Regions from separate parts of the Homo sapiens genome. Here regions 1, 3 and 4 are each reported to be linked to region 2. Evidence: microRNA targets listed by miRTarBase, many of them from high-throughput screens and not tested one by one. Region 2 holds a microRNA gene; each other region holds the end of a gene's coding sequence.
What was found. The annotated mature microRNA hsa-miR-556-3p reads AUAUUACCAUUAGCUCAUCUUU and lies in region 2 at 3,137-3,158, opposite strand. An mRNA with a match to its seed (bases 2 to 7 or 8) in the 3' UTR can be bound and repressed. Matches are read on the target gene's strand: a 7mer-m8 pairs with bases 2 to 8, a 7mer-A1 pairs with bases 2 to 7 and ends in A, and an 8mer does both.

Region 1 (7,698 bases), not on the chromosome of region 2:
AGAGTGCAGTGGTGCATTCTCAGCTCACTGCAACCTCCACCTCCGGGGTTCAAGCAATTCTCCTGCCTCAGCCTCCTAAGTAGCTGGAAAGTTCTGGGATTACAGGCGTGAGCCACTGTGCCTGGCTGGTAGAGTCTATTTCAATAAACATGATGCTTAGACAAACTTTCCAAGATATTCATGCCTGCAGGGGTATCCTAGAAGTAGGTGGTATTCTTTGCCTACCTGCAGTTAATTATGTAGACATCTGCTTGATTGAGTGGGAGACTGTGACTGACATCCATGTATCTAGGCGCCTGCAGCAGGAAAATGCCAAACACAGCATGCTTCTGATGTTGTATGTGTGCTTTCCTGCATGGAGGCTGTCATCCAAAGTGGAGGGTGCACAAGACGCTCAGCTTATAAGGATGGGCTGCATGTGTTGGTCATTCAGTCAGCAAATACTCAGTTAAATACCCCTGGGTGCCTAGCACTGTACTTGGCAAAAAGGACATAAGGGTAAACAAATTGAAGTCCTCAAGGAGTTTGCAATCTGGTGGGAAGATGGATAAGAAATAAAGCGATGATAATAGAATGAATTATTTTACAGGGATTGAGGGGGTAGGTTTTAGAAGATTGCGAGTTGGTGATGGTTGCTATTCTAATTTATGCTTAATGTCATGGGTCATTGGAAGTAATATTGTATATGAAAAGTTAGTTCCAGTCCATTGGAGCAGCTTTACTCATTTCTCAGTATAGATAATGAATTTTAATCCTTTAATCAGTCTGATTACAAGCTAAAAATTTTAAAATATATTTTTAGAATGGCCCCCGTGCTTCCAAGTGTCCTGAAGCTGCCAGTCAGATCTCTAACATACTTCAGTGCAAGAAAAGGCAAGAGAAAGACCGTGAAAGCTGTCATCGATAGGTTTCTTCGACTTCATTGTGGCCTTTGGGTGAGGAGAAAGGTGAGTCTTCACACTGTTACTAAATTGAAAAAGGAATGTGAGGCCGGGCGTGGTGGCTCACGCCTATAATCCCAGCACTTTGGCGGGTGGATCATAAGGTCAGGAGTTCAAGACCAGCTTGGCCAACATGGTGAAACTCCATCTCTACTAAAAATACAAAAATTAGGCGTGGTGGCAGGCACCTGTAATTCCAGCTACTCGGGAGGCTGAGGCACATAATTGCTTGAACCCGGGAGGTGGAGGTTGTAGTGAGCCAAGATCGAACCACTGCACTCCAGCCTGGGCGACAGAGCGAGACTCCGTCTCAAAAAAGAAAAGAAAAAAGGAGTGTGAGCAGATTAAAATCAAACAGAATTCAGAATTCAGCCAGGCACTGTAGCTCATGCCTGTAATCCCAGCACTTTGGGAGGCCAAGGCGGGCAGAACACTTGAGGTCAGGCGTTGTGGCAGGTGCCTATAATCCCAGCTGCTTGGGAAGCTGAGGCAGGAGAGTCGCTTGAACCTGGAAGGCAGAGGCTGCAGTGAGCCAAGATCACGCCACTGCACTCCAGCCTAGGTGACACAGCAAGACTTCATCTCAAAAAATGAAAAGAAAGCAGCTTAAGACCAGTTTTGCAAAACCATTTTTGAGATTTAGTAACTGCCCAAATCCTAATTCCCTTTCATTACTTGGAAATTAAATCTTTAAAAATCAAAATTTGGTTCCCTGTAAAAATAAAATAGTTGGTAGAACTTTCTTGATGTTTGAAAGGTTGAAAGGATTCTCCCGTTTTATAAACAGTACTAAATTAGTAGATAAATGGGTTGGTTGGAACTCTCAGCTCATTTCTCTATTGAAACACTGTGGTGGGTAGTTTCCTACACCAGTCAGCAGAAGCTCATATAATCCATAAAGCAGCTAAACTAAAGGTCTAATGTTCTGAGTTTTGTGAATTTGAGACCACTGGAAACATTTCTTCCCTTTTGTGTGTATGTGTTTTTTTTTTTTTCTTTTTTTGAGACAAAGTGTCACTCTATCGCCCAGGCTAGAGTGCAGTGGCACAATCTTGGCTCACTGTGACCTCTGCCTCACGGGTTCAGGCCATTCTCCTGCCTCAGCCTTCCGAGTAGCTGGGATTACAGGCATGCACCACCATGCCAGGCTAATTTTTGTATTTTTAGTAGAGACGGGTTTTCACCATGTTGGCCAGGCTGGTCTTGAACTCCTGACCTTAAGTGATCCACCTGTCTCGGCCTCCCAAAGTGCTGGGATTACAGGCATGGGCCGTGACGCCTAGCCCCACCCTTTGGTTTTTATACCAGTTATTTCCAGGTCCTCTTCTAGCCCTAGGTAAAATGAAATGGGTGGGTTTCCTTGCCTTCCTTTCCATGTCCCTCTTACTGGGCTCTGGGGCCCTCATGTTACTGTAAAGGACCCGATCATACTCTCCAGTCATAATACCTAGCTTCAGTTCAGGGCTCCCGAAAGTATACCCTGTATAGAATGCCCTGCCTCTTCAAAATCTAATTTTCAGAGAAAAAAAAAATCTGGGTAGATGAATTCAAACTAATGTGTAAAACAAAGTATTTTCCATGACACGGTTTCATCCAGCAGTCCTTGGTATTTATTGTTCATTCCCTCCTTCCATTTTTGAATCTAGAGATTGTCTAAAAAATTTCAAGCATTTTCATAGTGGTTCCATTCTGTGAATAATCTTTAAAGGATACTGGTGGTAATGAGCAGGGCAATAAATTAGGTGTTTGTACGTCAGAGATCCATAGTAACCCAGTTTGGCCTGCAAACTATGAAATTATTACACAAATGTGGAGATTTGGCTTTAAATGTTTGCATTTAAAATTGTAAGCAGTGAGTAGCAAAAATCTAACCTCTAGCATTCTAAAACCAGAACTCTTAAATAACCTTTCCTTATTTCATCACTGTCCTTATAGAAGTTGATGGTCACAGTGATGATACTAAGACATGTCAGAAATGCAAGGCACATTCTCGGCAAAGAGCCATGGTTTTGTTCAGTTGGTATTGTGCCATAAAGAGCCCTTGGCTTGAAAGGACCCAAGGGCTCACCGTGTGGTTTTAGCCAGATGTTAATTAAGCTGGATGGCACCTAAGATCCCTTCTAGTTTAAACAGGCTATGATTATAGTTTTTATAATCAATCAAATTTTCCTTTCCTGTCTTTAAAAATAAATTCTTCAAAATGAATAATACCTGTATGGGTGTATATGAAAGTTCTGGGTTAAATATGTGGGTTAACCATTCCTTCACCACTCCTAATAATAGTCTTACCATATTCATAATTCCTTAGAAAAGTACTTCCTATAAAAATTGGTCCCTTGTGTGTGAAAATAATAAATGAAGCAATATATTTGAGAACTGTGCTTCTCAGCTCTTGTAATACTCAGCCTCCTTAATAAATATTAATGTTGTTACCTCGCCTGCACTCCATCCTCCTCTACATTAGGAAAGACAGTGGTTAAGAACTCTTATTAGCCTGGGCAAGATGGTGAGACCTTATCTCTACAAAAATTTAAAAAGTAGCTGGGTATGGTGGTGCACACTTGTGGTCCCAGCTATACGAGAGGCTGAGGCAGGAGGATCACTTGAGCCCAGGAGGTAGAGGCTGCAGTGACCGTGATCATGCCACTGCACTCCAGCCTGGGTGACAGAGTGAGACCCTGTCTCAAAATGAAACAAAAAAAGAACTCTTATTAGCCCTCAGACCTCTGTCTGCTACTTCTCTAATCAATGGTTTCTTTTTTTAAAGATGTAAAATAGAATAATAGTATGTTGTTAAAGATTGCTGAAGAGATAGTAAGATCATACCTGTTAAGTTAGTGATTATAATTCTGTCATTATCTTGTACTTTCCCAGCCACACACATTTAGTTTTATTTTCTGTGAGTTTAATTTAAATAATTTTTTTCTAAAATATGATTTATTACTAATTCTTTTTTAAACTACACATGCTTTCTCCATCCCCCTCCCCGCCACCCTCCCTTCCCCCGGCCATTGAGAATCACATCTTTCCAAGAAATAGTCCAGCCCCTATGGAAGTCTGGTTTTTGTTCTTATTGGGTCTATAAACCTTGAGTTGTGAAGATACCTGTTGTTTCATACATAGTATGATGTTTTACATTTCTTTGTAATATCTGACAGGCTGGCTATAAGAAAAAATTATGGAAAAAGACACCTGCAAGGAAGAAGCGATTGAGGGAATTTGTATTCTGCAATAAAACCCAGAGTAAACTCTTAGATAAAATGACGACGTCCTTCTGGAAGAGGCGAAACTGGTACGTTGATGATCCTTATCAGAAGTATCATGATCGAACAAACCTGAAAGTATAGATCAGAAGTTTCACTTGTTTCTCAGTTATTGGATATGTATCTTTGTGTACATATCTTTGCAAAAATGGATAAGTACAAAACTTGATGTAAATTGTACCAATGAATACGTAAACATACAGTGACAACATTAAACTTAGAAAAGTTTTAAAACTTAATGGATCAGACTTTGCCAGATTTGGTTAGGGAAACAGAAATTTAGAATGGTGCATTATTTTTAACAAATGGTATTGGCTTAACTAGTTGTTTCAGTTATGCTCTTTTAGTTGCAAGGAATCTCAAGTGGGACAAACATAAAAAGACTCAAAAGCTACAAGTTAGCTCAAGCAATGTGACATTATTTCAAGGATATGTGCCAGGGAATTCAGGAACCACCTCACCAACCCCATCTCCCACTCAGAAATCACCTCCCAGCCTCAGGAAGAGTAGAAATTGGGTGGTGCTCCTCAGCAGGGGAAGGTGGATGTTTAGGCTTGGGCTCTGCATGCATGTGACTTGCTTCTTTTTGCATTGTTAACTCCATTCTCTCTATTCACCAACTTCTCTACACAGCTTTTGCATACTTACAGTTTCTGTTCCTTTGTAATAACTTTAACTTGCACCTTTGAGGTTCTTTTCTACATGATGACCTTCAGCTCCTGCTGCTAGTCTCCAATTGCCAAGGGAATTTAACTGGGCCAGACTACCTTTTTATACTAGGTCTGGTTGGGTCATTGTCTAGAGTAGGGATTGGCTGTCCTTAAGTCAGGAGCCCGCTTTGTATTAGCAGGTTTGCATGCAGCAAAAAAACAGTTATGTGAGCAGTTTCACTTGGAGGTTCACATGGGGTGGCAGCACACTTAACATCTAACACACCAGGTTCATTGTGTTCATAACACTTGTCATTTACTGTAACAACATTTTTTCATAGGAGAGTAAATAGCCCTTCAGCATGCTCATTCATGAAACAGAAGAGGCTGTACAAGTGAAGACAAGGGCTTTTTATGCAAGTTTTGAAAGATAGGTATTTATTTTTTCTAGAGACAGGAGTTTTGCTCTGTTGCCCAGGCTGGAGTGCAGTGGTGCAATCATAGCTCATTGAAGCCTCGCACTCCTGGGCTCAAGTGGTCCTCCTGCCTCAGCTTACTGAGTAAGGATATGTATTTCTTAAAAGTTAGTTTATCCACTTCAGATTTCATGTTTTCATTTGTAAGGATAAACTTTTCCCACAAATTTTCAACAATCATTGTAGAAACTAAGGGGGAGAAAGTAATCTCAGTTGTTTTAGAAACGAAAAAGTTAAGCATTGTTTACTTGAAGTGGGCAGGGAAGCAGCACTGAGTAAAGTTCAATTGAGTGGTTACAGTCTAGGGCAGTGGTTCCCAACTCTCCGATCAGAATCATCTGGGAAGCATTTTCAAACAGCAAAGTACTTTGAAAACCATTATTAAATAGAATTATGCATGAATTACTGTTTCAGATCCTTTAATGTGGTAGTTGGTAATAATAAGATGAAATTCCTCTGTTGTTAGTAAAATTATGAAATTGAAGTTCTGCAGCATGTCAGGCCAGGATTATTAGGGAGATTCCTCGAAACTAGTGTGTGTTTATTAAAAGGAGAAAGGATAACAATAGAATGTTCTAAAACCAGAAGTCCAAGTGCGTGTCTACTTATGGGACCAATAAATAAAGAACAGACATTTGATTTGAGGTGAGGTAAAAGCCTGAAACATGGAATGGCATTCTGTTTTGATGGATTTTCATTTCTTCGCACTTCTGAGACGGCAAAGCCAACCACTTAGAAGCCTTCCACATCTTTGTCACCTGCCTGGCTCCTGCTCTCTGATGTACCTCTGGGTAGTGAGATGGAAATGGTGCCTGCAGAAGTTGGGGAGAAGGATACTTTTGCACAGCCTCCATGATGTCTTTATTGCAAATATGGATGACAAGGGTCTCTGTTACAGGGGCCTCAGAGCACCTTCGTTTCTCCTCTAGACCAGGGACAGGTGTAGAGATAAGGACTGGCAACCAGAGCCTCAGCATCCAAAGATGGACTGAAGTGGGATGGCTGACAGGCACATAACTTACGGGAAAGGGAATTTCATACATACGATTTTTGTTTTGTGGGTAGGAGGGCTTATCATCAACACTGATTTTATAATCTGACAATAAATGTCTTTCATTAAAGAGTTTACCTAAATGATGTTCGATTATATGTATAATTTATAAAATATTTATGTATAGTTTGTTTATTCAGGTATATGTATAATTTATTGAACACCTACTATGTCCCAGCATATCTACAAAACTGGGTACATACATACTGTCTAACTGCTAATCCACATTTCCAGTCTTACAAAGGACATAATGATTAGTTAAGCCCTAATTTAGATTTGAGGAAACTGAAGCTGAGAGAGGGTTAAGTAAATTACCCAAAGTACAGCTAATAAGACCCAGAATCTCAGTCTCACTCCTTGGGATCCTGTGTATTTCCCTGAGTCTTCTAACATATGAAAATTCATATCTAAATCAACAAGTGACTGTAATCTGGTACTATAAATACTAAATAAACACTTCTTCATAACACTGTACCAATTCAGCTTTTAAATTTTATTACTTTGCTTTCCTGTCCTTTGCCAACTCTTAACCTAGTTAATCCTAGTTCTGTTGACATTGGACCAGGCTCAGTAAATAAACGAATGGATTTCCAGCCTTTTTTTCCCATCTGTTCCTGCTTTTAGTCCTCTGAATCTGCTTCTTTTCTTACTGCTGCTTTATTTTACAGTGATTTTGTCAAACATAGAATACAGGACTAAAAATGCAAAGAAATTGGGTCTGTGTTTAATTTTGATGTTTCAAATTTTGAGCTTCCAAGTCTTTGTGGCCACCCAATGAAGTTTGAGTCTGCCTGTTCAGATGTGAAAGGTAAGGGCTGCAGCAGGTTTAAGGGTGGCCCTTCACCACCCTGTTGTCACCTGCACAGGCACTCCCCCATTTGCAGATGAAGAAATGTTCAGAGAAGAAAAATGATGGACCAAACGTCTGTTTGCACAATTGAAACTCTACCAGTGGACTATTCTATTTTCACAGCTACCTAGTTTCTGCCGATGATTTTTTTAAATGTGAAATAAACAGTGATACTTTCAGGTTTGTAGTTGTGTGATGAACTGGTTTTCAAAACATTTATATCATCTGGTTTTCTTTCCCTCTCAACATCCTATGCAACAGGCACGGGGCCAAGTCACCAGGCCAGTCGGTGGCTGAACACTCAGCTTCTAATCCTTGCTACCTCCCATATTTGAAAAAAAGTATTTCCTGTTTCCTTTTAAGCCCAACATTACAAAGATGTTTTTTAAAAGAAAAATGTTAAGACTTTATTCAAGATGTGTATCAGGCATTATAACAAAACAGCAGAACTTCAACCTTTGGAATAC
Region 2 (8,265 bases):
GAGTAAACTAAAGCACAGAGAGGTTATGGAACTTGCCCAAGATCACACAGGCAGTGACTGGTGCAGCTACAATGCAAAGCAAAGGTCTTCTCTCTGAGCCACTTTGCAATGCTGCCATTTGCAGACTAGCATTTCTTTTGTTGTTTTTTAACTTTTTGAGTGGGATGCTTAATTCATTTGACTTTCATGATTTGTCATCTGTTAACGTAAATAACTAAACCTTTGAATTTTCCTCTGAGTGCTGCTTTAGCTATATCCCATGAGTTTTGAATACTGTAGCTTACTGTGGTACCTCTTTTGCTGTTAGAAATCATCATTCTCAGTAAACTATCGCAAGAACAAAAAACCAAACACCGCATATTCTCACTCATAGGTGGGAATTGAACAATGAGATCACATGGACACAGGAAGGGGAACATCACACTCTGGGGACTGTTGTGGGGTGGGGGGAGGGGGGAGGGATAGCTTTGGGAGATATACCTAATGCTAGATGATGAGTTAGTGGGTGCAGCGCACCAGCACGGCACATGTATACATATGTAACTAACCTGCACAATGTGCACATGTACCCTAAAACTTAAAGTATAATAATAAAAGAAAAAAAGAAAAGAAATCTGTATTGTCATGTTAAATTTATAGATAAACAAAGAGAGAATTAACATTTTTATGATGTTGAGCTTTCCCATCCAAGAATATGGCATGCCTTTCCATTTGTTTAAGATTTTTTCGTAGGTAACAAACACATTTTTATTGTGATTATTCATAAGTATCTTTTTTTTTAATTGTTATTTTAATGGATTTTTTTCCTCCACTATGACTTCTAACCAGCTGTTCTTGGAATATATGAAAATCACAAATATAGCTGTATGTGTTATTGAACTTTGACTTTCTAGCTGAATTCTCTTATTATTTCTAATAGTTCTCAGTTTATTTTCTTGGGTTTCCCATGTTAAAAATTAACATAAACAATATTTTTTTTATCTGCTCTTTTTCTTGCCCATACTTCATTTTTTCACATTTATTGTCTCCTTCCTGACTTTTTTTTTTTTGAGGCAGCCTAGCTCTGTAGCCCAAGCTGGAGTGCGGTGGCACAATCTTGGCTCACTGCAACTTCCGCCTCCTGAGTTGAAGCAATTCTCCTGCCTCAGCCTTCCAAGTAGCTGGGACTATAGGCGTGTACCACCACGCCTGGCTAATTTTTGTATTTTTAGTAGAAAATACAGGCAACATGGCAGGGATTTGCCATGTTGGCCAGGCTAGTCTTGAACTCCTGGGCTCAAGTGATCTGCTCATCTCAGCCTCCCAAAGTGCTAGGATTAACAGACTTGAGACACTGCGCCCGGCCTCCTTCCTGACTTTTAATGAGGCTTGAAAGTTGGGGATATTAAAATACTATCCATATTGAGGGCTTATAGAACTACAGAAGTTAGAAATTTAATAAAACAAACTAGGTAATTATAAATTTATGTTCTTTCTAATTTGTTTTATGGGGGTGCTTTTTTACTGAAAACTTCTTTGAAGTCAGATTTGGTAGTATAGCAGCTCTACCTCTCCCTGATATCCAGTTTAAATACTTCCTCATTTAATAATTTAAACATCTTTAATTTCTGTTATAAAAGTAATACGTGTTCCTTAAAGAGAATCTAGAATTTAGAGAGAAACGGAAAAAATAAAATGTTTCTTAAAATGAGTTCACAGCCTGGGGGTCAGGGCAGTGATCCACCAGAGCCTACTGTGTGCACTGCCTTCCCACCCACATCCACAGAAGCCGCAGTGCCTACCTGGGTCTCCTGAGCTGTTGCTGTTCCTCTCGCTCTCTCCATCTTCCTGGCCATCTGCATTCTGCTGCGTGTGCTGCAGGCTCAGCTTGTGGCAGACCTCAAAGGCCTGCCCCACCGTCCGAACGATTCTCATAGCTTGGCTCTGGGAAGGAGAAAGGAGAAGAACAGGATGGGTGAGGATGCGCAAGGGGCATGTGGATAGAAACTCATGAAGCAGCCAAAGAAAGAGACAGAAAAATCTAAAGTTGTTCAGATATGCACATACAAATGAGTGCAAAGACATTTCCCCTTTCTGAAATACTCCAGAAAACAGAAACTGTCACCACAGTGCTGAAACAATCAGTCAACTGAAAGGACAGATAGCAAATATGCCAGTTATGGACTTAGCCCCAATTCTTCCCTCCCATGTGTAACAGAAGTAGTCAATATGCTTCAGAATCTTTTGCCAGCCATGATAAAATGTTCAATGGGTCCATCAAACTAAGAGGAACTCGGCTATCATTTTTTTCTTTTTTGAATGCTGCTGCAAATGTTGAGTTTCCCTGGAGCTCCTGCAGACCAAGGGCAGTGGTAACATGAGGCTTGGAAGCCATGGCCTAAACAGCAGAAACCAATGGAAGCTCAGCACCCAGCTCCTCTGGAACACCACTAGTTGGCAGCCAACTAAATCTAAGGTGACACTTTCCCAGACTTACTCCAAAGACCTCACGTTCTTGGGTCTATTCTGTGGCTCCTTCCTTTCTTTTGTTTTGGTATTTAATCTCTTGCTTTAAGAGCCCAAGAAGAGAACTTGACCCTAGTTCCCAGTATTCCACCATTTAACTAGGAGAAGAGAGAGAGGACAAAGAAGCCTGCTCCTATGTAGAGTCTTAGGCCACCCATGCAGGCTGTGAGGAAGAGCCACATGCAGGGGTTCCAGGGCATGGCCTCAAAGGTGGATAACTGATTATGGTTTGAAGATGTCAGCTTTTGCTTTCTTTCAAGGACAGAAATGAGTGATGTGGTTTATTTAGAGTTTCAGAGCTCAGGCTGGGAAGGGCTCAGCACACTGCTTCTCTTACCTCAGTGGGCCTCAAGCATCCCACCACCATGGGCTACAATTTAATCTAATTGTGATTGTCACCCTATACTCAAGTCTAACATTCATCGTGTTTTGGATGATCTGACTTCAGGTCAGCCATGGCCACCTGTTGACACCATATAGTCCATCAATCACATCCACCTCCCACCCACCCCAGGTAATGGCAGCAATCAAGTAGGGCTTTTCATCAGCATGAGGTAGCTGGTATTACATTACCTAACTGATATCCAGTGTTTTGATAAGTCTAGAAGGCCTTGTTGAAGGTAGTAATAAAAAAGATGAGCTAATGGTAATATGAAATGTATAAATGAAGCTCATATTACAATGAGCTCATCTTTCTTATTACTATCTTTGTGAACTCCTAGGGACCTTGGAACCCTGTGCATGGAACAACTGCTGTAGTCCATTCTCTGCTGGGTATAACTTCTAGAATTGCTTCTCCTCAAGCCTGGAGTCATTTCTATGTTCCTTCTGCTTATTTCAGGCCAGAGCATCCATATTAATGTGAAAGGCATCTTGACTAATTATCATCTACATGTCAATTTGAGATCTCAGTCAACTCTACTGCTCCCTATATTCTTCAGTTCAAATCTACTCCTAGAAGTAATTGTTTTACAGCTCTAACCTTTCTTAGCCATTAGACTAACTCCAGAGATATTCTCCATTGGTCTCTCACCTGAAATATCCTGACACTTCTGGGAGATAAGAACCTTAAGCGAAGCAGGAGGAGATGGGTAACTTCTGTGGGGTCCACCATCACCCAGTGGCGAATCAGAACCTCTGTTTTCTACATCTACCCTTAATTTCCTCCTGTGTCCACAGGGCAGGCTTAGGCCCCTTCTCATACCATAGGCTTGCAGTGTGTAAGACATGACTGTTCTATCTGCACAGGAAGTTGAGAAGCAGTAGGCATCAGTCCTAAGCAAGAAGCCCCTACACTTCCCACTCCCAAAACACACAAAAAGGCGTGATTTAGAAGACACAGTCCCTAACAAATGTGGGCTAGGAACACTCCAGCTTTCTACATTTCCTTTAGCCACCAAGCTGTGCTGTGCTTAGGAGGCTGTGCCAGGAAGCTTAACTCTCAGGTGAAAAGGGAGAAGTAAAGGCTCCTACATCCGAAACTGTTATTCCCCTAGGCCTTGAGATTTTTTGGTTCCTATTCCTTTTATGAGAGTAAGAGCAGACTGCCTATGGTTAATCGTCTACGGCAAAGCTCGTTACTAGTTTACTAAACCTTAGGTATGACTTTATTCTGCCTACCACTGTCCTACCAGTGTCCACTATACAGAAACCTTCCTCTACTTTCTTCTCTGACTCTTGGGAATTTTGCTCCCCCAGGTATCTTTACAAAAGGTAAAAAAGGTAAATGTTTTAGGTTGTAACAATAAAATATGGTAAGTCCAAATGATATGTAGAGATTAAGTGTTTAATTCCATTACTTTCTTCTCTTACATGAATTAACCCAGATATCTCATACTGAATAAATATCTGCAAAGACTGAGTTAGTCTTTTCCCGTCGGTTTCATTCCCAGGGTACAGATTAAAATACAGTTCCCCCTTTAAAATACAGTTATATAGAAAATTCTAAATTCACTACTGAGTTTGTTCCTATAACATCTCAGGTTTTCCTAAGGAGGACGTGTTACAAATTCCATCATCTCTGTAAATCACAGATACTTCCTTTAACCAGCTTTTAAGATGATATTAAAAATTTAAAGATCCTCAAACAAATGTCCCTGATCTATGGGATTAGACAGGGGTAGGAATCGAATTTCTAAATTTATCTTTGGAAGGAATCCCTCAGATTTAAATAAGAGGATAAAGGTGGTGGGAGAATGACTTCACAGAGGACCTGTATTTCTCAGGCATCACAAGATGACAATGGATGATGGGCTATGCTCAGAACTGAGCATCTTAAGAATATAGACTCCAGCTCAAATCTCTATTCTGCCACCTTTATCAAGGACAAACATGTGCAACATACTCACATATTCAACCATCTATAAGCCCAAAGTGGCTGTAAGGAAGTAGGCTGGTTTTAATGGTTAATATTGATAACACTTCATTTTCACATTTTACTAGTATTTTTTACTAGGATCAGCAGCTGACCCTAACCTCTACCTGATTCCCCTGAAAAAGTAGGAAATGCAGACTTTAGGTTTACTGGTTCTGCCTTCCCCATGCTGGAAAGGGCATCCCATCCTTCAGCCTCCCATTTCCTTCCTATCCTCCCTCCACCCGTTGTTCTCTACGGTATTTCTGTAACTGCACTGAAAAACTGAATATATGATAGCACCTACCACAGTGCCTGGCATATAGTAAATGCTCAAGAAATGTTTTATCCTGACTATGGAATTCACTGCACCAAGAGGCAATTAAGACAGAAAAGAAAAAGCAGTGCAGGAAAGGTGGAACAATTTTTATCATAGTAGAAACATAAAGCGACTAAGGGAATCACCTCTTACTTATGTATGCTAACATCCAAAAGGCTGTGCATCAGATAGCATAGCCTCCACCATAGCAGCACAGGAAAATTCCTGAGCCAAATGGATCTTTGGTCTGAGCTAGTATGATAGTTTCTACATGTGAGGAAATTGTTGCATTAAGAGTTCTAGATCTGCATACTGAGTGGTAAACAGTTTAATAATTAAATTAATAAATTAAATGGTTTAATTTATCCTTTATTTTACTCCTTTAATGTGAAGGTTATATTTCTATTCACAGTAAAAGGACACTGTAGCATGTTTCATAAAGAGCCCTCTGCACTGGAACACATAATCAAGCTACTCTAACTGTTTCACAGAATGACTACATACATACACATAAAAGAATTGCCCTTCCTATCTACCACTCAGGGAGTCAGAAGGGGCTAAACAGCTCCTCACTGTACTCATAAATGGCTATGTGAGTTCTGATGTCCCTTGACCTTTTAGGCTCTCCTTGCTTCACCATTAAAAAGTCTACTTTTAGAGGATTCTATATGGGGACCTCGTTAGGGAGGTGATTACTTAAAGGTGGTCAGTAGAGGCAGCCTGTGCCTGGGAGGGGCTGTGTCTTCACCATCTGCTTTCTGCACAGCCATGCTGGCTCCTGCCTGCTAGGCCTACCCCACTTAGTTACCCCACCTTCTGGCCTGCAGGGCAAGAAAACTGGTTCTGCCTTCAACCCCAAAATGCAAGAATCACACACGCTGGGATTTTATCATTAATTAGCCATGTCTGCACCCAAGAGGGAGAACTCTGGTAAATAGCAGCTTTAAAAAGTCCCTTCCAGAAGTTTTTATGAATGCTTGTCTGTGGGTCTTCTAGATCACAGTGAAGCAGTTGCTCCCACCTCATGACGACATACAGGCCTTTGGAGACTAAAGCAGAGGTTTAAAGATTGAAGGCAGTGAGGTACAAAGGGTAAACAAGTGGAACCTTGAGAAAGCAGCCTTTTTGAGTTCCAAAATCTGGCCATTCTCTGGAATTTACTAGATTTTTTTTTTTTTTAAAAAAAGCATCATTATACTGCATTATTTCTGTACAAATCCAGTTTAGTTTTACATAAGCCCATAAAAGTGCTTTGCCACACGGATCAAATCTTCTCGTCCAAAAGCCATTTTCTATTAGCAGCCCAAAAGCATTTGTGGGCTCTTCATTGTCAAGATTAGGCTGGATATGGTTGCTTTGATATTTTCAAAGCTGGAAAGGGATCTCTAACCTCAGAGTGGCTCTTAGCTCCAGATGGAGAGCCTGCTCATGGGAGTGTCAACTACAGGCAATTTTGTGAAAATACAGCTGGAAAGGGAGCTTAAAACTGTATACACTTACCTTATACACACAGCAATGTTTCTTCAAACCACCCATCTTTTCACGCTGACACAGCTCCTTCTCCCACAACCCTAGGACATCCCTCAAGCCAGAACCAAAGTTAAGTCCAAATGCAATGAACAGCTGTTCTCCTCAGCACACCTAATGTGGGTATCAACTTCATACCTAGCAGGAGTCAACATTTGATGAACTGCGGCAATGGTCATGAAAATAACACTATATTCACAATCACTGTGGGTTGTACACCCGAAAGCAAACAAAAGCCGACAGTGGTAGCTTTAGGAAGACATAAATCAAAAGGTTGATTCCTGTACCTCACTGGCCCATAGAAAAATTATAGTCAATCATGATTTTATTTTCTCCCATCAAAGTACACACCAGACCCCACCCTGCTTAGCTAATGAGATCAGACACATTCAAGGTGGTATGGCCATAGACCATGATTTTATTTTCTATTCTCTTTCTTAACGACTTTGTAGTTGGTTGGTCCTATAAAATTTGGGAATCTTTAAGTGCCATATGCATGTAAAGAATGGTTCTTATTAGTCATATTCTATAGCTGATTTGATAAATAATTTTGGGCACTGTTCTGAATTTCACTGTCCTGGAAGAAGCTCTCTCTTTACTTTACAACTTACAAAGAGGATTAAGAGTCACCAGATAAGCAAGTAGAGAGTATAAGTACAAAATACCAGATGAAGATGATGATGACAATGACAATAATAAGAGGAGAAAAGAGAATAATGGGGGCACACATCTTTCAAGTAAGGTTCTTTAATGGTCTACCAGCTCTCTAGTTTACTATTCCCCTGTCCCCTCCTCCACTCCCCCTCTCCCCCATCTCTTTTGGGTACTCAAATTTGACTGACAAGTGGTTCTGAATTTTAGAGAACTGAAGTCCATGAGGTCAGCTGTGGGACAGCTCACAGATTTATAATTCTTATCTATCACAGCAATACAAGATAATGTCCTTGTCTTGACCTTAACTGCCACAGAATCTCAACAAAAACAGAACTGAATGTCATGTTTCTTTAATGTATTTTTTTGGGTTGGGGGGAATCTTAGTAAAAGATTCAGCTTATATCTATCAAATGATCTTAATCTATGGAATTTACAATGCCAAAGCATGAAAATACATTTATATTTGGACTTCTACATACAGTAGGATCTACAGTACTAAGGCTCTGAAATGGTAGATGGGTTAGGTTTTTGTCCAACACATTATTTTGTGGCTTTGATTATATAATTTGGTTGAGGTGATGCCTTGGACATCAGAATATTGCTCAGTATAAGGAAAGTTTAGTTTCAAAGCAGGTGTGATTTTCTACATTGACAGGACATACTGCATCTTAAAGTTTCCAACAGATAGCTGTGTTTTTCCTTCTACTCTGCTAGTCCATGAAACTTAGTACCCCAGAGAAAAGAAGTCTGAGTTACAATCCCAGTGCTGTCAGAACCAACTGGGTGACTGTGGACAGTTAATTCTCCTTTCTCAGTATTGATTTTCTCATCCACAAAGAGAGTGATTCAGACTAGATGAGTTCTGAGACCCATGATTCCTGCATTTTGACTTCCCAACTCAACCTAA
Region 3 (8,264 bases), not on the chromosome of region 2:
GCTGAAAGGAGGACAAAAGCCTCCACCCATCTGTGCCAGGACACAGCTGCATCAAGCTTGTGAAATAACAATTTGCATCTTCAGAGCTGCACCCATTAACTGCTCTTTTAGCTGCTAGAGAATTTCAGAAAGTTTTGCAATCAGGCCGTGTGCAGTGGCTCACGCCTGTCATCCCAGCACTTTGGGAGGCCAAGGTGGGTGAGTCACTTGAGGTCAGGAGTTTGAGACCAGCCTAGCCAACATGGTGAAACCCCATCTCTACTAAAAATACAAAAGTTGCTGGGCATGGTGGCACACACCTGTAATCCCAGCTACTCCGTAGGCTGAGGCAGGAGAATCCCTTGAACCCAGGAGGCGGAGGTTGCAGTGAGCCAAGATTGGGCCACTGCACTCCAACCTGGGTGACGGAGTGAGACTCCATTTCACAAAAAAGAAAGTTTTTCAATCAGCAAAATTAGGTTAACAGGTTTTCATTTTTGGTGAAAGTTTATATGAAGGCTAAGTATTAAAATGGCCCGATCTATATATGTTATAGTCAATTGAACATGACAGGGTCTATAGGTTTTAACTGTGCTAGTCTGCAATTTGGTGATGTTTCTGGAATGGAAAAACAAACTAAATTGATATGGTTTGTGGTCATCTCATTCTTCTCAAATCATATGACTAAATGAGTTCACCTAGGAGTGATTGTCAACCCTATCCTCTCCCTTAACGCACGTGTGCATGTGCACACACACAACTACAGCAGGTAAAATTTTAACACATTCCCATTAGATTATAAATTTGAAATCCTAGTGTAATATGATGCAGACAGAAGGCACACTGTTATCTGAATAAATTCTAGAATTCCTTTTTTGTTGTTGTTGTTGTTGTGCCAAATTGTGTTTTATGGCTATACTTAATAAATTTTGAAATGAGTCTTTTGCTAAAAATCATAGAGGATATTTACCCACATCATTTAGTTAGGAGCTATAAAATCAAAGTCTTAAAACACATTTGTTAAACTGCCACAAAATTCATTCTGAGGCCGGGTATGGTGGCCCATGCCTGTAATCCCAGCACTTTGAGAGGCCGAGGCGGGCGGATCGCCTGAGGTCGAGAGTTCAAGGCCAGCCTGGCCGACATGGGGAAACCCCATCTCTACTAAAAATACAAAATTAGCTGGGCATGGTGGTGCATGACTGTAATCCCAGCTACTCGGGAGGCTGAGGTAGGAGAATCGCTTGAACCCAGGAGGCAAAGGTTGTGATGAGCCAAGATCGCACCATTGCACTCAGCCTGGGCAACAAGAGTGAAACTCCACCCCAAAAGAAAAAAAAATTCATTCTGAAAAATCTGAAAATTAATTTTTTACTTTGGGGGTTGCTTTCAAAGATTAAATAGGGTTCGCCTTGCCACTGATTTTATCTATTAGGTTGATCAAAAATGGCTGAATATCTGCAGTTTCATATGGTTCAACCTGATTAGAATCAGTTTCACATTTAAATGAACAATACAGCCCTATATATTCCAAAGAAAAAAAGTCTTTGCAGGAAAGATAACCTCAGCTACCCTGCAACATGCTAAAAATACCAACTACAATGCAGCACCAGGGGTTATGGTGCTAGTAGCTTCCCATGTAACTCTGGGGTATTAAGAGGCAGGGACATTGTTTAAAATAACTGACCAATACAAAAATGTCATGCTGCCAAAAATTTTCTTATCCCATTCCCAAAGGTGTTTTGTTTGTTCATTTAGCTTTTCTCTTTTCCACCTTCCACAGAAGGCGCTGAAGGGTAATGAATCTTCAAGAATTAAGATTAGATAGAAACCTGAGTAACCAGTCATTTCACAGGCAATAATTGGCTACAGAGTAATGCTGACTTTGTTCTAAGTCAGAAGCTGACTTGGTTATTTACTATAGAACACAAACATCCACAGCCACTAAATGACTTTACTGAAAACTAGCCACATTAAGTATGACATGTAGAGATAACAAAACTACTTTTGAGAACATGGTTTAAAATTCTGAAAAATAAAAGATAAAGATTTTCTTATTTCTAATAGGGGGAAGGGGTTCCTACATTTCCCAGAAGATCAAACAAGAGACCCAAACACAGGATGTAACGACAGCCCTGTACAGCAAGATGCACTTTGCACAGACAACCACAGAGATTGCCTCCACTTCTTTATCCTAAAGTGTTGAGATTTAAATCAATTCAGACACTCTATATACAATTGAGTCTCTTTTCATTTTTAATTTTATTTTTTAAAAAAGACATTGAGGTTATGGTAAGAAATTATGAAGTTACATTTTTTTAATCTGTCAATTGCTACAGTAGTGGAATAAATAAATAAGTTTTTTAAAGTTCAATGTTTATAGACATACTTATAAAAAAATGACTGAATTAGAAGACATTAAATAATGTTGATACACACCAGGAAGGGATTTAGGCAAGGAAAGGCACATCATATTACCACAAGAAATAAAGACCATAGTTGGAGGTTAATGGACAGCCAGAACTTTAGATCTTGTGGTAGGTTTCCCAGCTCTGGAGGGTCATTATGGTGAAACGTTCTTTATAGTACTGGGCTGGAATAAATAAATAGCAGTTGAGGAATTTTACCTTGTAACTGTAATATAATGTAAAAAGAAAGCACACTTTTAATAACCCTGGTATGTGAAGAGGAAAGAAAAAAAATCCAAAACAATTTGGTGGTACTGAAAATCTTACGGAGAGTTAAAAATAATACTAATCCTCGCCCGGCTGAACTGGAATTCTTGCAGTTACAAAGTTAAAATTTCAAGTAAACACTGTATTTTTCACTTTTTGTAGACAGACACAGTGCAGATACAAACAGCTGCCATATCTCACCTCAGATGAAGCTATGTGTCAATGCTTAGGGAAAATGATCTTAGATAATTTCCCAATTTTATAGAGCTTAAATCTTTGAAAACAGCACTAATACTGCTGGTTGACTGGCTATCTACAACAGCAAAGTGAACATAAAGTTTTGACGATGAGAGGTTTCCCAAAGAAACTAATATAGAGTTTTTAGTTGAACAGATACAGTTACTTTAGTTTTACTGAAAAGTCTAACAGACATTAGCACAACTTGTTTTCGGTCACATTCCTACTCCCAATTTTCTTTCATAAATTTGTGTCAAGTCTCTATCCATTTCTTTCTGTCTAGACCTAGATTAGTTTATTTGAAAGATGGCATCGCTTAAAGTAAACCACATAAATTTTAGTGGTATTAAGTGTGTATTTAGTGGTGAATGTGTATAAATAAAATAGATTTTCATAATAAAATGGTATATCCACAAATAAAAATTAAAAACAATTGAGAGGTGGGGAAAATATCAGTATTATTTTAAAAAAATAAAAATGGCAATTGTAAAGCAGGCAGTTTCTTGCTCATGCCACACGATATGCCTTCATTAAGGTGTACTCTTTCCGGTTGGTGTGAGCAGCCCAGATGAAGAGAGCAGAAGCCATGAACTGTAAGGGAGCAGAGACACAAGCCAGGCAGAAGGACCATCCAAATTCACCGGATACATTGTCAGGGAGCTCTAGTTTCTGGTGGAGTAGTTCAATTCCAGCAACATAACAACTTACTGAGCCCAGTGTACACAGACCTTGGGGGAAAATTTAGAAAACAAAACAAAACATGGCTGGATAAAAGCACAGTAAAGAGCTTTTCAGGCAATGTGACAGGGCAGTTAATACGTGAACATTTCAGATTTATAACTCTTTGGTCCCTAAAGAGACAGGAAGAAGCTAAAAGGTAAGTATGATGACAAAACCTACCTGCAAGGAGATGGAGAATGCCCGTGGCAATGGTGGGATATAAGCTTCGGCAAATGCAAGCACAAAGTCCGATCAAAGCCCCAAAGCACATCAAACCTAAACTCACAAAAGGTAAAAGGAACTGGCAACGCCAAAGATCTGATTTTTAAAAAGAGAGAAAAGAAATGTTACCGTGATTTCAGACCATTTTCCCCGCAATGGCAATTTCTTTCATATTCTAATTAGATCTTTTCTCAAAAAGTGTGAAAGTATTTTAACATTGAGGCCTCTTTTCTAAAGCACATTATTCAAAAGGATGCTACTCTTGTCCTGATAAAAGTAAAAGGACACTAACAGGTAGTAGCAATTACTGAGGGTTCACTATGTTCCATGCTATGTTTGTCTACACATTTTCTGTATTAATCCTCCCAACAACCCTAGAAAGTAGGTACAGTCAGCCCTCCATATCTGCAGGTTTCACATCCGCAGATTCAACTAACCAAGGGTTAAAAATATTCAGAAAAAAAAATGATACAAATTTACAAATATATAGTATAACAACTATTTACATAGCATTTATATTGTATTGGGTATTATAAGCAATCTAAAGATGATTTAAAGTATACAGGAGGATTGTGTAGGTTATATGCTAATATTATGCCATTTTATATAAGGTACTTTAGCAACCTTGGAATTAGCAGGGGGTCCTGAATCCAATCCCCCATAGCTACAGCTGTATTATTATTAATTCCATTTTGTAATTAAGGAAACTGAGGCAAGAGTCATAAATAACTTGTAAAAATAACACAGTAAGTGGTAGAGCCAGGATTTGATACAAAAATCAGTCTGACTCTACCTACCAACAATATCTAGGTCTTTATATGATCTAAAGGCAGTAACAACAAGTAAATTAATGGTAATTATAAATGACCTGTCTTATAGGGCTGTTGAAGAATATATATAAAGCACAAAGCAGAGAATCTAAAGGTAGTTTTAATTATCATAAATCTCTCATCAACATGGGAAGAAAACCTGATGACCTCACAAAACATGCCATTCCATTTTCCAATAATATTCATTATTAGAAATGCATTCATATCAATCTTGACTAAACTTTACACCTTTTGGTGCTGGTTTTGCTTTCTGGAACTTCTTATGTGTTTTTCTAACTTACTTTCTTTCAAACTCTCCTAGTAATAAACTGCTTGCTACACATTCTCTTTATAAAACTGAATACCTACCTCTTATTCAACCTTTTCTCTTACAACATGGTCATTCTTCTGGGCAAGTCCCTATAGCCCTGAAAACTGAGGCTCAAATCTGAAGACAGTATTTCATGGGCTGCCTGACCATCAGGGAATAGGTTGTTCCTAATAAATACTTTCATCTTTTTTGACATCTACCCTTTTGTTACTATCACCTAAGACTGGATAAACACTTTTGACAGGCCTGACAACTCACTGACTCATTTAGAGCTTGCAGTAAACTTTTTTCACATATACTTACCTGAACTCAAGCAGTGGAAAGTGTTTAATTCAAATATAGGAATGTATAAGTTATCTCAACTAAATTTCCTTTTACTAAATGGGCCCATTAATAACATCTTTTGAAGGTCTAGATCCCATCATCCAATGAAGTAGTTGGCCCTGTCAACTTCAAATCATTTGAAATTTGGTAAGCATGTATCTACCTTCTAAAATATCAACAGAATAGAGTTCACTGGATACTGTTAGAGATTTTATTTCACGTTGGCACAATCTACTAACTCATCTTATTCCAAAAACATAGTCCAAAAAGAGACAAATAAAATTATCTTTGTTCCCCCAACTGTCCTGGTGAAATCAAAGTACTCACAGGTCCTAAGGAGATCAATCCCGCTATTGTGGTTTCCGGGATCAACAAATTTCTCCATGAACTGCTCAGTTAGTGTGAAACTCACACATTTTGTGACCACATCAAATGACTCTGGAACAAGAACAATTGCCTGTTGTTTTAATTATAAACATTTAACAAAAATCTCTTTCAGTAATTATTCTCTGAAGTAAAACAGTAAAGGATGTTTCCAGAGGGGTCAGCAACTTCTCTGGCCCTGACTGACACACAGGTTTCATAGATGTCCAATGGATGCCACTGGTTCTCAGTGGCAGGCTGAAGACATAGGCACAAGGAAGAAAAATAAAGTGGAAGCAGTAAAATGAATGGCAGAATAGCTATGTAGAAAGCCTAGGAAGAAGGGGAGGGAACAAAGACTGAAATAAATAGGAATGTTGATCTTCTCATGCAACCGTGCTTTATCAACCATATTCCCATCTCAGGGAATGCCAAATCCACACTTCCAGTTCCTCAGACCAGAAACTTTAGAGTAATTCTTGTACATTTACACTCCATCAGGAAATCCCAGGAATTCTTCCTTCAAACTATGTCCAGAATCCAGCTGCTGCTCAGTGCTACCATTCTGGTGTGAGTCATAATCATCACTTAACCTGAATTACTTCTATAACCTCCTAACCATAGTCTTCTAGTTTCCACCTTTGTCTGCTGCCTCTGTTCTCACAACAGCCAGGGTGACCAGATCAGGGCTCAGCACTGTATCTGGAGTCAACACCAAAGTTCTCATTCTGCCTAGAGTCCTCCAGGATTTGCCCCAGTCCCACTCCCAAAGTAGGTCTTTAACAGCATACCCAACTTCCCGTCTCTCCCTCCATTCCAGCCCAGTGGCTTCCTTACTGGTCCTTGAATATTTCAGGCATGCTCCCGCCATAGAGCCTTTGCAGTAGATGTCCTTTCCAACCTAAATGACTTCCTCCCCATTTACCCATATGGCCAACTCTTTTGTCTAGTCTTTAACTACATTCTTTACTCAAGTGGTGTCTTCTCAATGAGACCTACTTTAAGTATCCTATTGAAAATCATAACCTATGGCCACCAATATTCCTTTTCCCACATATTTCCAAATCCCTTTTGTGTTCTATTTTGCCATAGCACATGTCATCTTTTAACATACTGAATAATTATTTATTCTGTTTATACTGTTATATTCTGTTCACTGCCTGTCATCCTTTATTAGAATGCTAGCTCCCCAGGAGTAAGGATTTTGTTCTTTCCTGATGTTCTCCCAGCTAAGAGGCCCTGGAACATGGAGACATGCAATAAATTATTTGTTTAATGAATGACTAAATGGTAACACTCCAATTCCAACTCCAATTTCAATATCAAGTGCTCCTGTAACCTCATAAGTCAAACTGAACATTTTACAATGAATTTTAACCAACTTTCTCTCCTTTCCTTCCAAATTATCTTTTTTTCCAGATACAGTGACATATTATCATCCTTTTGATATATCATAACTCAAGCCTGTTCTGCTATGATTTGAATACAATGCTTCCCCACTAAGGGGCCAACAGAAGTAGTCATAAATAAACTGTAAAGTTGTTCCTTACAAAGAGTTCTAAAGCTACCATTTTAATAACTGGAAATCAAAATCTTTAAGTGTTAAATAAGAATGCCTGTAAAATAAACCTAAAAATCTAGTTTTTGGTTTTTTTTTTTTAACTTCTGTAATACAAATTTCTTAACCTACCAACTCTGCATCAAGATTGTTGTAAAACAGTCTCATAATTACACAGATTAAATGTAGAGCTGGTCAAATTATATCCTCTAAGACACAGGGGCAAATGATAGATATGTATTATAATACAGCTAACCCATAAAAGGACAATTTTTTGAGTTGATTTTCGATGGTAGTCCTTTTACTAGTTACCAAATATTTTTAAAAGTCTTTCGATGTACTTTTCCAACTATTTCTTTATAACATGTGTTAGAGTAATGAAAAGTATTTTAATGAGTGAGTAAATAAGAAAAAAAAAAGCCATTAAGGCTTTCCCAAGATAAGAAAAGTTCCTCATCCAACCAATATTGATGAGTACCATGGTAATGCAAAGAAGTTGGGGAGAGAAGGCAGTAGAAAGAGAAGATACACGATTTATTTCTTTAAGGAGAGAGAGAACCAACAAACCTGCTTACATGTAATTGGGCAATCATTACGTCGTTTTGTCTATTATTAACCAGGTGAAGAAGACAGAAGTTAAAATAAGAGAAATACCTGTCCTTTCTGGTGGGCTATACCAATGCATGTTTTTGGGTATGGTGATACACCGTCTCCACAATCCCACTGTGCCATTGTATCGAAAAAGTGCATCATTATAAGTCTTTTCATCTGCCTCATCACTAATGAATTCATCCCAGATGCTTTTATTCAAATCACTGGAATTTTCTTGAACTGGACTTCGATATTCATACCAGAAGTCTGTGCCAATGGAGGCTGCCATGTAGATGGTGGAAATGAGGCTAAGCACACAAGCAATTACAAATGCTGTAGCAAAACGGTTATCCATTCTGGCATTCAGACTGCTCTGTTTAGAAGTTGAAGAAAGAAGATAAGTTAGAGTTTACGGACAAATAAGAAAGATTATTTTGAATTATTCCAAATGCACC
Region 4 (8,265 bases), not on the chromosome of region 2:
TTAGTACTGTGAACCAAATGGATCTAGTTGATACTGACAGAACACTCTATGCAACAGAAGCAGAATACACATGCTTTTTCATATAGACTGTATTCTAGAACATTAAATAAATGTAAATAACTTTTAAAGAACTGCAGTCATACAATGTACTTTGATGAAAAAAAAATTAAAACCAGAGATCAGTAACAAAGAGATATATAAAATATACTCAAATATTTATAAATACACATGACTGCAAATTAAATTATACTTCATGAAAATTTGTGGGGTACTACTAAAGTGATGCTTGAAGGGAAATTGTAGCAAAAATGGCTATATTAGAAGATGGTTCTCAAATCAGTGACCTAAGCTTCCACCCTCAGAAGTTAGAAGAGCAAATTAAACCCAAAACAAGCAGAAATAAGATAATGATGAATTTTAGAGCAGAAATCAATGAAATATTTAGCAAAAAGTAATAAGAAAAAAAATTGAAGCCACAAGCTTATTATTTAAAGAGGTCAATAAAATTGATAAACATTTTACCAGACTAATTAGGATATTAAGAGATTAAGCACAAACTATGGATGTTAGAAATAAAATAAAGAACTTTACTACAGATCTTACAGACATAGTAAGAATAATTTTTTAAAAAGTAGGACTGGGTGGTTTTCTTGAGAACAAGGCCCTGTGCTCCCATGAGAATGGACAGAGTTGGAATATAAGGCATCTGAAGGGCCCTAGAGAGGAGTAAGGGGAGGGGCTTCCATTGAGGAAAGCAAGTTACTTCTGTCCCCCTCTTCTAAATTTGCAAATTATTAGCGTGCTTTCCCACTTTCTGCTCCTTTTTAACCTCCCATCTTTCATACCATCCTTCACCCACCTTCAAGTATTAGCTTAACAGGGATGTGGGTGGTGTCAAGCAAAACCATTTCTTGGCCTTTCCTGTCTCACTGCTAAGCTCAATTCTAGCGTCCTGTTTGTTTTCTTTTGGTAAGTTTTCCCTCTCTCCACTCTAATCCTGCTCCAGTCATTCTTGGTTATGTATGTGTGTACTAACTTTTGATTTGGAAGTAATTTCAAAGTTATCAGAAAATTTGCAAGAATAATAGAAATTTTGAACCCAATAAACATTTTGCCACATTTGCTATTTGCTTTTCCATTTTCTCTGTCTCTCTCTCACTGACACACATTCACACACATTCTCTTACATTACTATAGTACAGTTAACAAATGTAGAACTTTAATATTGACATAGTCCATATTTCAGTTTAGCCAACTATCACACTATCTTTTACAGCAATTTTGTTTTTCTCAGGATCCTGCATTCCATTTAGTTGTCCTGACACTTTAGTCTCCTTTAATCTGAAACAGTCCCCTCTGCCTTTCTATTTTTTCCCTGATATTAATTTTTTTTAAGAATACAGTCCAGTTGTGTCGTAGGATCTCTCTCAATTTGTGTTTCCCTGATGGTTCCTTGTAATTAAATTCACATTACTGCATTTTGAACAGGAATATAGAGTCTTGTTTTAAAATGAATTTATATTGCTAATTATTTGTCTGTTTTGTGTTTGTTTTGTTTTGTTTTCATTTTAGAAAGCGGCCTCTTACACTGAGGAAGATGAAAATCACACAGCCAAAGATTGCCTTCTGGTTTATTCTCAGGAAGAAACTGAATCGCTGAATGCTTCTATTGGTTGTTGCAGTTTTATTGAAGGAGAGCTAGATGACCGCTTCTTAGATGATTTGGGACTTAAATTCAAGACACTAGCTGAAGTTTGCCTGGGTCAAAAAATAGATATAAATAAGGAAATTGAGCAGAGACAAAAACCTGCCACAGAAACAAGTATGAACACAGCTTCACATTCACTCTGTGAGCAAACTATGGTTAATTCAGAGAATACCTACTCCTCTGGCAGTAGCTTCCCAGTTCCAAAATCTTTGCAAGAAGCCAATGCAGAGAAAGTAACTCAGGAAATAGTCACTGAAAGATCTGTGTCTTCTAGGCAGGCGCAAAAGGTAGCTACACCTCTTCCTGACCCAATGGCTTCTAGAAATGTGATAGCAACAGAAACTTCCTATGTCACAGGGTCCACTATGCCACCAACCACTGTGATCCTGGGTCCTAGCCAGCCACAGAGCCTTATTGTGACAGAGAGGGTGTATGCTCCAGCTTCTACCTTGGTAGATCAGCCTTATGCTAATGAAGGTACAGTTGTGGTCACTGAAAGAGTAATACAGCCTCATGGGGGTGGATCGAATCCTCTGGAAGGCACTCAGCATCTTCAAGATGTACCTTACGTCATGGTGAGGGAAAGAGAGAGCTTCCTTGCCCCCAGCTCAGGTGTGCAGCCTACTCTGGCCATGCCTAATATAGCAGTAGGACAGAATGTGACAGTGACAGAAAGAGTTCTAGCACCTGCTTCCACTCTGCAATCCAGTTACCAGATTCCCACTGAAAATTCTATGACGGCTAGGAACACCACGGTGTCTGGAGCTGGAGTCCCTGGCCCTCTGCCAGATTTTGGTTTAGAGGAATCTGGTCATTCTAATTCTACCATAACCACATCTTCCACCAGAGTTACCAAGCATAGCACTGTACAGCATTCTTACTCCTAAACAGCAGTCAGCCACAAACTGACCCAGAGTTTAATTAGCAGTGACTAATTTCATGTTTCCAATGTACCTGATTTTTCATGAGCCTTACAGACACACAGAGACACATACACATTGATCTTAAAATTTTTCTCAGTCACTGATATGCAAAGGACCACACTGTCTCTGCTTCCAGGAGTATTTTAGAAATGTTCCACAATTTACTGAAGACATAGAGATGATGCTGCTGCTTAGGTGCCTTTTAGCAAGCTATGCAAACAATCCTGATAAAACAAGATACATAGAGAGTCAATCTGGCTTCTGAGAATTTACCAAGTGAACAGAGTACCTAGTTCATCAGCCGTCCAGTAAAGCAACCCAGGAAACTGACTGGGTCTCTTTGCCTACCGTATTAACATTAAACATTGATGTTCTGTATTCTGTACTTTACTGCACCCAGCAGACTTTCAACAACTCATTGATCCAAAGATACATGCACAGTCTGAGCACCAGCTATGGTGCTCATAACTTCTTTAAGACTTGAACCCTTTCAATCTGTGTGATTCATTAAATTGGACCATTGATGATAAGAATACACATTGTATGTTTCTGTGCACATGACAGTGTGTGTGTGTGCACGTACATACTGTATAGTCTTAAAAATAGCATTATACTGGCCAGGGGTGGTGGCTAACGCCTGTAATCCCAGCACTTTGGGAGGCCGAGGCGGGTGGATCAACTGTGGTCAGGAGTTTGAGATCAGCCAGGCCAACCTGGTGAAACCCCGTCTCTACTAAAAATACAAAAATTAGCTGGGCGTGATGGTGGGCGCCTGTAATCCCAGCTACTTGGGAGGCTGAGGCAGGAGAATCACTTGAACCCGGGAGGCGGAGGTTGCAGTGAGCCGAGATCGCACCATTGCACTCCAGTCTGGGCAACAGAGTGAGATTCCGTCTCAAAAAAAAAAAGAAAAGGAAAAAAAAATAGCATTATACCTCTTCCTTGTCTCAACCGCCATGAAAATTCTGAACACTCCAAATTCAGTTGAATAATCCAAAACAAAATTTATAAGTATAAAATAATTTTACTTCTTATAGTAATAGTATACTTTAAAAAGCCTCAGGGTATATTATCTTCTAAACAGCTACAATTCAGTGCAGCTACATTAACCAACTATGTTCTCTAGTTGAGAACAACTAGGCCTATTTCACTGCTGTGTAGCCTCAGTGCCTAACATGGGTGCCAAATAAATATTCGTAGAATTACACTGAATTGTAAAAACCATTCGTTTTTGTTTACAATTGCCAAAAATCTCAAAAGGCCCTGTATTTATGTAATTCTTTGAAATTATTATTTTATTTTGATTTCTCAGTTATTGACTGGCTGGGTGTGACTTAGTACATAAGTACTCAATATTATAAAAACCTCAAATAATTGACTTGATTTTACACAACATCCTTCCCTTTTCTACAAGTTAATTTTTTTACAAATCATTTGGGTTATCTCCTAAATAGGTTATATTTTATTGCTTCTAGAAACAATGTTTCAAAATATATGTGCATTATCAGTAATAATTTGTATAAATATTTCCCACAACAATTTTCATAATTTTCAAAGACTAATTTCTTGACTGAAGATATTTTGCTAGGGAAGTGAAACTTTAAAATTTTGTAGATTTTAAAAAATATTGTTGAATGGTGTCATGCAAAGGATTTATATAGTGTGCTCCCACTAACTGTACAGATCAGGACACATATTTTTAGACATCTAAGTCTGTAGCTTAAATGGAGGTTACTCTTCCATCATCTAGAATTGTTTACTTAGTAATTGTTGTTTCTTTTATTATTATAGACTTACTATCAGTTTTATTTTGCCAAGTATGCAACAGGTATATCACTAGTATATGAAAATGTAAATATCACTTGTGTACTCAAACAAAAGTTGGTCTTAAGCTTCCACCTTGAGCAGCCTTGGAAACCTAACCTGCCTCTTTTAGCATAATCACATTTTCTAAATGATTTTCTTTGTTCCTGAAAAAGTGATTTGTATTAGTTTTACATTTGTTTTTTGGAAGATTATATTTGTATATGTATCATCATAAAATATTTAAATAAAAAGTATCTTTAGAGTGACCCTTTCCCCATAGATTTTTATTTCTCTATTATATTTTACAAGGAATATAACTCAGTTTGTTAGGGAGAGTGCCTTAAAGGCAGGTGTTTCTTGGACTTTGTTATTTAATTAGATCTGCTTGCAATAAAAAAAGTTGTCGGTTATCTAAAATTCAAATTTATCGGGGTACTTGGCATTTTCATTGTCCAACTCTGGCAACCTTGTTCCTAAGGAAGTGAAGGTTGCTCTCTGCCCAGAGTAACACTGGAGAAATCTGTTGGGTCTGGCAGAAGAAGGCTAGTATATCTAACCCAAAGAGATGAAATCATTCTACCAATGTTTGAGAGGCTGTTTTAATTGCTTGTTATAGTTTAGAAGGGAAAAGATCAGAGTTGCTGCTATAAGAGAAGAAAAACAAATTTTCTTCTAGGTCCCCAGCTGGGGCTCTGTAACAAAACACAGATTAACAAGAGAAAAACAAACATTAGTCTGTTAACATGTGTATCTCATGCATGCTTTGGAGTAACTGGAATGAGCAGCTCAAAGGGGTGGTTAGAACTTGGGTGTAAAATGTTAAAAGAAGAGCTTTAAACAAATTAAATCTAACAGTTTACTTAAGCAAAGAAAGGTTCACAAAATTGGGCTGCCCTGGAACTAGAAAAGGTTCGGAGAACTCTATTCTACAATAATGAGCAGGCCGTATTCATAGACAGAAAATGGAAGTGAGGTAGGGAAGCTGCTTGATTGGTTACAGCTGAGCCTTTGCCTTATTTGGAGGTGGGCTGATCAGTTGGCAGCCAGTGACTGGCTGAAACTCAGCTGCTGTGATTGATTGACGCTCAGCTATGTATTACAAAAATATACTCCTAAATTAGGCTTTCAGTTCATTTATGTACCAAGCTAGGCTGCAGTTCGTCATGTGGGGACTCAAGGTATGGAGGCAGCCTCAGGCCCAGTTTAATTTAATAATATACCAACTTGGGCTAAAACATAGGAAAGGGGATTAGGGGCTTCTGGGCAGGGGAAACAAGTTATGGGAAGGTGACCAGGAAAAGTCTGGTAAGCTTGAGTAAGATTTGTCATGCAGATTTAAATTAATCTCTTTGTCACTTATAGTCATCCCGTGTTTCCGGTACGGAGGGAGACAGCCTTACAAATGGACATTTCCCTTATAAATGTAAATCCCTTTACAAAAGGTAAACTTACGTTCTGTCTTCAGAGTTTCTCCTGCGTCTGCTATTTCTCAAAATAATCAGCTCAAAATAATCCTTATACTAAAAACGTATTTTGGGGGCTGTAGCATATTCTAGTCGACACTGCCGGTAAACTGGAATGTCTCATGAATGAAGATTTCACGACAATGGCACATCAGAACATCCTAAAGCATGAAGACTGGTTTATTCCTGCGTGACTTCAGTTCCCACTCCCAGTGGCACATGGAGCTAATTCTGGTTGATCTCTGCAGACCATATTCCAATCACCACCACATCAAAATGTCTACAGTAGGACGTTGCTAACCAAATATCACCTAAAAATGAGACATTTCAGATCATTAAATCTGACTTTCTTAAAGGACCAAAATTTATTAGTTTCATTATGTTTTATTTTAATCCTCTATATCATTCCCAATTACTTTGTCTACTGTTTCCATTAATTACTAAGAGGTTGAAGTCTCCCAAGTGTGGCTTTGCTTATTTCCCCCTTTAATTCTTTCTATTTTTGTTTCCTGTGTTTTGAAACTTTTTGCCTGTGTTATTAGGTACAAGTACATTTAGGATTACTGTGTTCCTGAAGAACTGATCTTTTTATCATTATGAAATGCCTCTCTTCATCTCTGTTTATAACTGCTAATTACCTTTAGCCTAAAGCTGCCTCCTTACATTCTTTTCCTTTTTTTTTTTTTTTTTTTTTGAGACGGAGTTTCAAGTGAGTGAAATGGCGCAAACTCGGCTCACCACAACCTCCGCCTCCCAGGTTCAAATGATTCTCCTGCCTCACCCTCCCAAGTAGCTGGGGTTACAGGCATGCGCCACCACGCCCAGCTAATTTTGTATTTTTAATAGAGACGGGGTTTCTCCATATTGGTCAGGCAGGTCTCAAACTCCCGACCTCGGGTGATCCGCCTGCCTTGGCCTCCCAAAGTGCTGGGATTACAGGCGTGAATTACCACACCTGGCCCTTGTTACATATTTTAAGTTTGGCCTGAAGGTTTCTCCATACTTAGTGAACTATAACCTAACTGGATGTGTAAACAGACTGTAACCTACTCTTGTCTGAGGCAATCACGGCCGCAATACTTCAACCACTCACAGGCAGCCAACTGTTCAAACTGCATTCAAATAAGGCAAACCCTGAGCTGTAACCAGTCCTGCTATTCTGTACCTCACTTCCTTTTTCTATCCATAAATCCTCTCTGACCACGTGGCAGCACCAGCGTGGCTCTGAATCTACTCCGGTTTAGGTACTGCCCAATTTGCAAATTATTCTTTGCTCAATTAAAGTTTGTAAAATTTGTTTATATATTTATTTATTTTATTATTTTGGAGATGGAGTCTCACTCTGTCACCCAGGCTGGAGCGCAGTGGCAGAATCTCCGCTCACTGCAACCTCCGCCTCCCAGGGTCAAGTGATTCTCCTCAGCCTCCTGAGTAGCTGGGCTGGGATTACAGGTGTACGCCACCACACCAGGCTAATTTTTGCATTTTTTTTTTTTTTTTTTTTTTTAGTAGAGATGGGGTTTCCCCATGTTGCCCAGGCTGGTCTCGAACTCCTGGCCTCAAGTGATCCACCAGCCTCAGCCTCCTAAACTGCTGGGATTACAGGCGTGAGCCACCACACCCAGCCAACTTTGTAAAATTTAATTTGCCTGAAGTTTTTCTTCTAACACATTCTTTGTCTTGAAATCTACCTTGCCTAACATTAATACAGCCATACCAGCCTTCTTATGGTTAGTGCTTCCGTGGTATATCTTTTTGATCCTTTTGCTTGACACCTGTCTGTGCCTTTATAGTACATTTATTGTAAACAATATACAGGTAGGTCTTGGCTTTTCCCATTTTGACAATTTCTGACTTTTATCAGAAGGTTTTACAACAATTATTTATATGGATAAGTTTAAGCTTCCATCTTTGTATTTGTTTTATCTTTGTCCACCTGGGTTTTCTGTTGGTTTTTTGGTTTTCTCCACTCTTGTTTCCTGACTTCTTTTGTGTACTGCATGCTTTAGGATTCCACTGTAGCACCTCTGTTGACCTTTCACCTACACCCGCTTGTGTTTACTTTTTAATTGGTTGCTCTTACTGAGGAAATATAACTAACAACAAAATTTCCTCTCAACCTAAAAAACCTTTCCACAAAGTAAAGGAGAAAGAAAACAGTGTCATCATTGAATAAGCATTAAACCCTGAAGGTGAGGCACATCACAGGTAGCTCCTAAAGAAACTGCGGGCCGGGCACAGGGGCTCACGCCTGTAATCCCAGCACTTTGGGAAGCCGAGGCGGGCAGATCACAAGGTCAGGAGATCAAGACCATCCTGGCTAACATGGTGAAACCCCGTCTCTACTAAAAATACAAAAAATTAG

Region 1: the mRNA of MRPL35 is a reported target of hsa-miR-556-3p. Seed matches in the 3' UTR shown: 7mer-A1 at 4,868-4,874 and 8mer at 5,764-5,771.
Region 3: the mRNA of CLDND1 is a reported target of hsa-miR-556-3p. Seed matches in the 3' UTR shown: 7mer-m8 at 2,452-2,458.
Region 4: the mRNA of DSG2 is a reported target of hsa-miR-556-3p. Seed matches in the 3' UTR shown: 7mer-A1 at 4,139-4,145.

The regions. Positions count from the first base shown.
Region 1 is chr2:86,206,381-86,214,078 of GRCh38, forward strand. MRPL35 (mitochondrial ribosomal protein L35) reads left to right here. Exons shown (of 4, transcript NM_016622.4): 3 at 803-947; 4 at 4,100-7,410. The coding sequence ends at 4,288. REEP1 (receptor accessory protein 1) reads right to left here. Exons shown (of 9, transcript NM_001371279.1): 9 at 7,613-7,698. Among named protein-coding and RNA genes, the nearest start is that of MRPL35, 11 kb to the left of the region's middle.
Region 2 is chr1:162,337,493-162,345,757 of GRCh38, reverse strand. It overlaps MIR556 (microRNA 556), which reads right to left and starts at 3,212; the gene lies at 3,118-3,212. NOS1AP (nitric oxide synthase 1 adaptor protein) reads right to left here. Exons shown (of 10, transcript NM_014697.3): 6 at 1,782-1,923. It also overlaps the pseudogene RNA5SP61.
Region 3 is chr3:98,513,261-98,521,524 of GRCh38, forward strand. It overlaps CLDND1 (claudin domain containing 1), which reads right to left. Exons shown (of 5, transcript NM_001040181.2): 2 at 7,873-8,182; 3 at 5,625-5,735; 4 at 3,792-3,929; 5 at 2,223-3,619. The coding sequence starts at 8,164. The coding sequence ends at 3,399. Among named protein-coding and RNA genes, the nearest start is that of CLDND1-AS1, 5.2 kb to the right of the region's middle.
Region 4 is chr18:31,544,149-31,552,413 of GRCh38, forward strand. DSG2 (desmoglein 2) reads left to right here. Exons shown (of 15, transcript NM_001943.5): 15 at 1,573-4,860. The coding sequence ends at 2,595. It overlaps DSG2-AS1 (DSG2 antisense RNA 1), which reads right to left. Exons shown (of 6, transcript NR_045216.1): 3 at 5,890-6,211; 4 at 1,588-1,758. Among named protein-coding and RNA genes, the nearest start is that of DSG2-AS1, 8.6 kb to the right of the region's middle.